2 separate regions of the Homo sapiens genome follow, and region 1 is linked to region 2. Evidence: fine-mapped expression QTL. A gene starts in region 2. The other region holds a variant in brackets. All regions are shown on one strand. Distances are from middle to middle.

Evidence for each region. PIP is the estimated chance that this variant, and not a neighbour inherited with it, causes the effect.
Region 1: its variant is the best candidate, but not a certain one, in a credible set for the expression of ATOX1-AS1 in lymphoblastoid cells (TwinsUK, PIP 0.54).

Annotation. Positions count from the first base shown.
Region 1 is chr5:151,230,878-151,233,794 of GRCh38, reverse strand. No RefSeq gene overlaps it. Among named protein-coding and RNA genes, the nearest start is that of CCDC69, 8.2 kb to the right of the region's middle. The variant A/G (reference allele first, on the strand shown) is at 1,480.
Region 2 is chr5:151,751,765-151,754,681 of GRCh38, reverse strand. It overlaps ATOX1-AS1 (ATOX1 antisense RNA 1), which reads right to left and starts at 1,602. Exons shown (of 4, transcript XR_007059008.1): 1 at 1,373-1,602; 2 at 560-1,009. It overlaps ATOX1 (antioxidant 1 copper chaperone), which reads left to right. Exons shown (of 4, transcript NM_004045.4): 2 at 2,903-2,917.

The sequences.
Region 1 (2,917 bases), 520 kb after region 2:
AAAAAAAAAGAAAAAAGATTTTCAGTTTCACTTAGAAAATTAGAAGGTCAGGCCAATCAGGGCCTCCATTTCCTTCTAACACCAATCCACTGCAGTGCAGCCACCTGTGCTCCTTTTGGTTTGGTATATGGCCCCCAGTTTGCACCTGTCCCCAACTTATACTAGCCTTTTTCTAATTTAGGTACCTACCTAGCCCTATAGACATTTGGGTTTTAACCTGCAGACCTAGGTATATCTCCCATATATTCTGGGCCACTCCGATTTACAAATATTATTCTACCTCCTTGTCCCTCTAAATGTCCCAGAAATTCCAATATTTTGGCGAACAGTAATGCATGAATAGAATCAGATCAATAAAAATATACATAAGTCACAAAATTTCTTTGCTACCTCATGTGGTCCAATTTTCAGTTTGGAAAGCCCAGTTGCTGACCTCACCATCCTCCAACTCTCATTCCCATTGTTTTATGTGGGTAAGACCCTCCCACTAGGGTAGAACAAGGAAGATGCATCAGGACCCAGGACCAGGAAATGCCAGGTTTCCCAGAAGAAGGGGTCAAGGCATAGTCGTCTGTTGGAAAACGGTTGCTTAAGTTATGATTACATAGCAGGCTATACAGGTTGAAAAATATTCACTTTTCAAATCAAAGAATGAAGTGGGCTGCTGGAAATGAGGATCCACTGAACAAGGCTATACAGTTAATGTGTCTGCAGTTGGATAGAATTGAGAGCATGATGTCAGTGGGAATATGCAGAAGGTGCAGATGGTCCCTTGATGAGATGTATATTGGGGGAGGCAAGGTAGAGGGGTAGGGAGTTTACTGTCTGCTTGCAGCCGGGCAAGTGAATACCCAGCTCTGTTCTGAGCCTGGAAAGACCCAAGCTAATGCTGGAGTCCTGCTCAGTCAATTACTTATAAATCAACACGCTGCTCATCAGAAGACTGTATCCAAAAGGGAGCCTCAGAATCTCCAAAGCAAGGAAGGATTCTCCTAAGGTCTCTAGATGTGGGGTGGTTCAGGGCCTGGCTCATGTAGCCCATGGAACAGTCCACCATGTTTCACACGAAGGATGTGGGTAGGGGTGGTCTAGACACTAGACACCCAGTGTTGCCAAGGATGTCTCAAACCCAGAAAACAGTGCTTACCCATCGACTCACTGAGCCCTGGACCCTACTTTGTCCCTCATCTCTGTGTCCATTTTTTTTAAGTCTATCAGACATCTATCAGACATGAGGAGGACATGAAGGTCTAAAGCAGTGGTTCTCAAACATAAGCACACATCACAATTATGGGGAGGAGATGTTAAAACACAGATTGCTGAGGCCCACACCCAGGATGTCTGATGCTTTTCTAACAATTTCCCAAGAGATGCTGATGCTGTTAAAGCCTGGTCCACATTTTGAGAGCCACTGATGCAATGAAATGTTCACTATTGTTCATTCCTAGCGGCCTCCAGACCCCACAGCTTACTTAAGGA[A/G]AGCATGTGCAGTTTTCCCTAGAGAGTATTCCCAGGCAGCTGGACATGGTGGCTTACACCTGTAATCCCAGCACTTTGGGAGGCCAAGACGGGAGGATCACTTGAGGCCAGGAATTCAAGACAATACTGGGCAACATGGCAAAACCCTGTCTCTACAAAAAAATACAAAAATTAGCCAAGCATGGTGGCACATGCCCATAGTCCCAGCTACTCAGGAGGCTGAGGTGGGAGGATCACCTGAACCCCGGAGGTCGAGGCTGCAGTGAGCCATGATTGCATCACTGCACTCCAGCCTGGGCAACAGGGCGAGACTTTGTCTCAAAAAAAAAAAAGAGAGAGTATTTCTAGGTGATGTTCTGTGCTCCTCCTACTCTTACCATCCAAGCTCCTTAGGGATCTTTATCTGAACTTCACTGAACAGAGAAAGCACTGGCCGACCATGATTTACATGAACTGACTCTTGGTAAAGAAAGTGGTAAAGTGAATCTTTTGATGCCTCTCCCAAGGCAGCCCAAATCCCAAACTACAGCTCTCCTGGGAAAATAGGCAGGGATGACTTCTTGCTAATTAGTGTTACTCAGATTCAATTCTCCTTTCCAAGGACTTACCCTTTCATTCAATTCAACACAATCCAATCCAATCCATGTAGCAATTCAGTTCCCTGGCAAGGAGACCCACACAAGCTTTGGGGCAGTAAAGCTCAACCTTGAGTGTGAAGATTCCTCTGACTCAGTCCTCTCAGTCCTGATGCAGTGGATGGGGAAAAGAGAGAGAAGTCCAGAGAAACTGCACTTTAACCAATCCCTGATGCTTCTGAAGCAAATGAGCCTGCCCATATCTTGAGAAATACTCCAGTAGAATTCTAAGGACTCAACAATTTCAGGTGTTTTCATTCTTCAAGAGGAGCCTGTCAAAACCAACCTTTATTTTTAGGCTGGAGTGCAGTGGTGCAATCTTAGTTCACTGCAACTTCTGCCTCCTGGGTTCAAGAGATTCTCATGCCTCAGCCTCCCGAGTAGCTGGGATTACAGGCACATGCCACCATGCCTGGCTAATTTTTGTATTTTTGGTAGAGACAGGATTTGCCATGTTGGCGAGGCTGGTCTCGAACTCCTGACCTCTAGTGATCCACTTGCCTCAGCCTCACAAAGGGCTGGGATTACCAGCATGAGCCACCGTGCCTGGCCAAAACCAGCCTTTCTATCCAGAGTCCAGAAAACCCAGGGAACCTTAATCAACACAGCCTCATTTCCCATCTCCAGAACTGAAGCTGGGGCTTTACAGAGTGTCCCTACGAGTAAATTATTCTAATTAAATTCAATATAATCAAACTTAATTAGTGACCTATGTATTGGTTAGAAATGCACTCTGCTATAAGTAACAAAATCTCAACAGCACTGACTAAAACACATTTTTTAAAAATTTTGTAAGTTGATAT
Region 2 (2,917 bases):
AAAACTCTTTGTAAAACAGGTAGTTTGTAGTGTGCCAATCCATGTTCCAGAGCATCATCATTTTTTTTTCCAAAACAATTTTTTTCTTTTAAATTAAATGGAGCCATGATCTCACTGTATTGCCCAGGCTAGTCTCAAACTCCTGGGTTTAAGTGATTTTCCTGCCTCAGCCTCCTAAGTAGCTGGGATTACAGGCACCTGCCACCATGCCTGGCTAATTTTTTTTCTATTTTTAGTAGAGAAACAGGTTTTGCCATGTTGGCCAGACTGGTCTCAAACTTGTGACCTCAGGTGATCTACCTGCCTCAGCCTCCCAAAGTGTTGAGATTATAGGCATGAGCCACATTGCCCAGCCTAAAAAAACTTTTTAATAGAGGAGAGCATCATCTCAGACTGTAATGTGGGGAGGAATGACTTGGGTGTCTTGTTAAAATGAGGATTCTGATTCCGGACTTCTGGGAAGGGACCTGAGATTCTGCATTTCTGACAGGCTCTCAGGTGATGCTCATATTGTTGGGCTGAGGACCACATTTTAAAGACAAGATTTTGTAATACTTACTACAAATCCTTCTTTCCAGAATCTGTTATTGTTGCTGTCTGTGAATAGTCAGGAAACAAGATGAAAAAATCAGAGATGTTTAGAAGAAAGGAAAGACTGACCATTTTCTTTAAGACAGATTTTGCAGATTTGGCCTTAATAAAAGGAGTGGTTTACTAGTCACAAAGGTCAAACAGTCTGCACTGGAAAATCGAGCTGCTTAATTCTTGGTCTTCGTTTCCTCTGTAGAGCACAGTGACAATCCAGACTCAGCGGTGTTTAGAGACTTGGAAAGAGTTTGAGAAGCCACTTAGCCACTTTATTTTCAGGTTTGTAGTTTTGCCTCCCGTTCTCTCCCCAGTAGGTTAAAAATGGGGAGTGGCAGGGCCCGCTCCACATCCACAGAGTCAGTTGAGGCAGGTGTCTGGGAGCTGCACTTTCCACAAGGTCCCCAGATTCTTCCTATGCACACTAAAGTTGAAAAAAATTGAGTTAGCTAATACCCTTTTGGTATAGATTAGGGAACTGGAGCCCTTCTGGAGCAGAGATTTTGCCTGTGGTTTTCTAGCAAGATATATCACTACACCCAGGATTCCAACTGAGGTAATAGACTTCAAATATTTTGAAGTGCTCCATGAAAAATGTAGCCATTGATTTTTGAAGGGAAACAGGAGAGACAAATGGAAGAAATTAATAATCCAATAGCTAACCTTTTACCCAACGGAACCTAGTACTAGGCTCTAATTTCCTTAATGTGTTAGTTATCTATTGCTCCTTAGTAATTATCCCAAAACTTTGTAGTATAAAACAACAAATATATTTATAGTAACTCACACAGTTTCTGAGAGTCAGGAATTTGGGAACAGCTTGGCCTAGTGGCTCCAGCTCAGAGGCTCTCATAAAGCTGCAGTGAGATGTTGGCTGGAGCTGCATTCATCTGAAGGCTTGACTGGAGCTGGAGAATCCACTTCCAACATGTCTCACTCACATGCTTGTTAGCTCGAGGGTTCAATCTCTCACTTTGTGGACCTCTCCTTGTGGTTGCTGGAATTTCTTTGTAATTTAGTAGCTGACTTCCTCTAGTGCAAGTGACCCCAGAAATGGAGCAAGACAGAAGTCACAGTGTCCTTTATGACATTGTGATAGCTTCAGAAGCCACATAACCTCACTTCAAGCCATATTCTATAAGACACACAGACCAACCCGAGACATGTGGAATGGGATTACTCAAGGGCATAAATACCAGAGGCAGAGATCATTGAGGCCATCTTGGATGCTGGCTAACCGTACTTAAAATCCTGTGTTCATCCCATTCACAAATCTAGAGAGGGACTCTTACCCTCAATTTTCAGATGTGGAAACTAAGGCACAGAGAAGTAACATATTGATGATCATGCAACTAGTAGTGCCAGAGCTGGTATCTGAAGCCATATTTATCTGATTTCAGATGGTCTCATTTCCAGAGATTTTAAAATAAAGTATTGGTATAAGTAATCCTTGTGTGAAAGCAAAGCAAAAGATCCAGAAGTTCAAACCAGCCATGTCAATTATCCATTGACTCAAAAATAAGTTTTAAGCACCTACTCTGTCCAGGCACTGTTCCAAGTATTAGGAATCCAGTAGTGAACTGAACAAAACCTCTGTCTTCTGGGAGCTTACCTTCAGACCCTTGATCTGTTAGATATCCTAGAGACTGTAGAATGTAGAGCTTACATGAAGACTAGGAGCCGGGGATCCCTTCCTGCCTGGCCTCCAACCCACTGGGGAACCCAGGCAATCCTTTCTTTCCCTGGACCCAGATGCTGCCTCTGAGAATGCGGCCCTTGGATGAAAGCAGAATCACCTGGGGTAATGAGTAGACATAACAGATTCCCCAGCCCAGACCTGCTGACCAGAACCTGTAGTTTTTGCAAGCTGTAGGTGACTCTAGTGCAGAAAATAATTTTGTGGTTCATAAGTGGGCCCACCAGATCAGCATTGCTCAGAGTATGGGGGCCCATCCCTGTCAGAGTTACTGGTGGCCCTGAGACAAAGCTCATAGCTCAAGAATCAGTGTTTTGAAGGTAGGACTGGGAAAAAGCATTTTAAACTAGATCTCCAGGTGATTCTATTTACTATGTGCCAGACACTGCTAAAGGATTTATAGGGATGATTCCATTGAATACAACTTGTGAGGTAGAAACTCTTAGCTACTCTATAGTTGAAGAGACGGGCTCAGAAACAGGCTTCTGATGAGTCTGATGCCAACCAGGTCCTGCCCAGTCTCTCTGTCTTCTGTCTTGACCCTGAGTGGGCCTGTCTGCTGGCACTGTGTGGGGGTCACTCTACAGGGCTCGGGTCATGGTCCCCCTGTGTTTGTTTCAGAAGCACGAGTTCTCT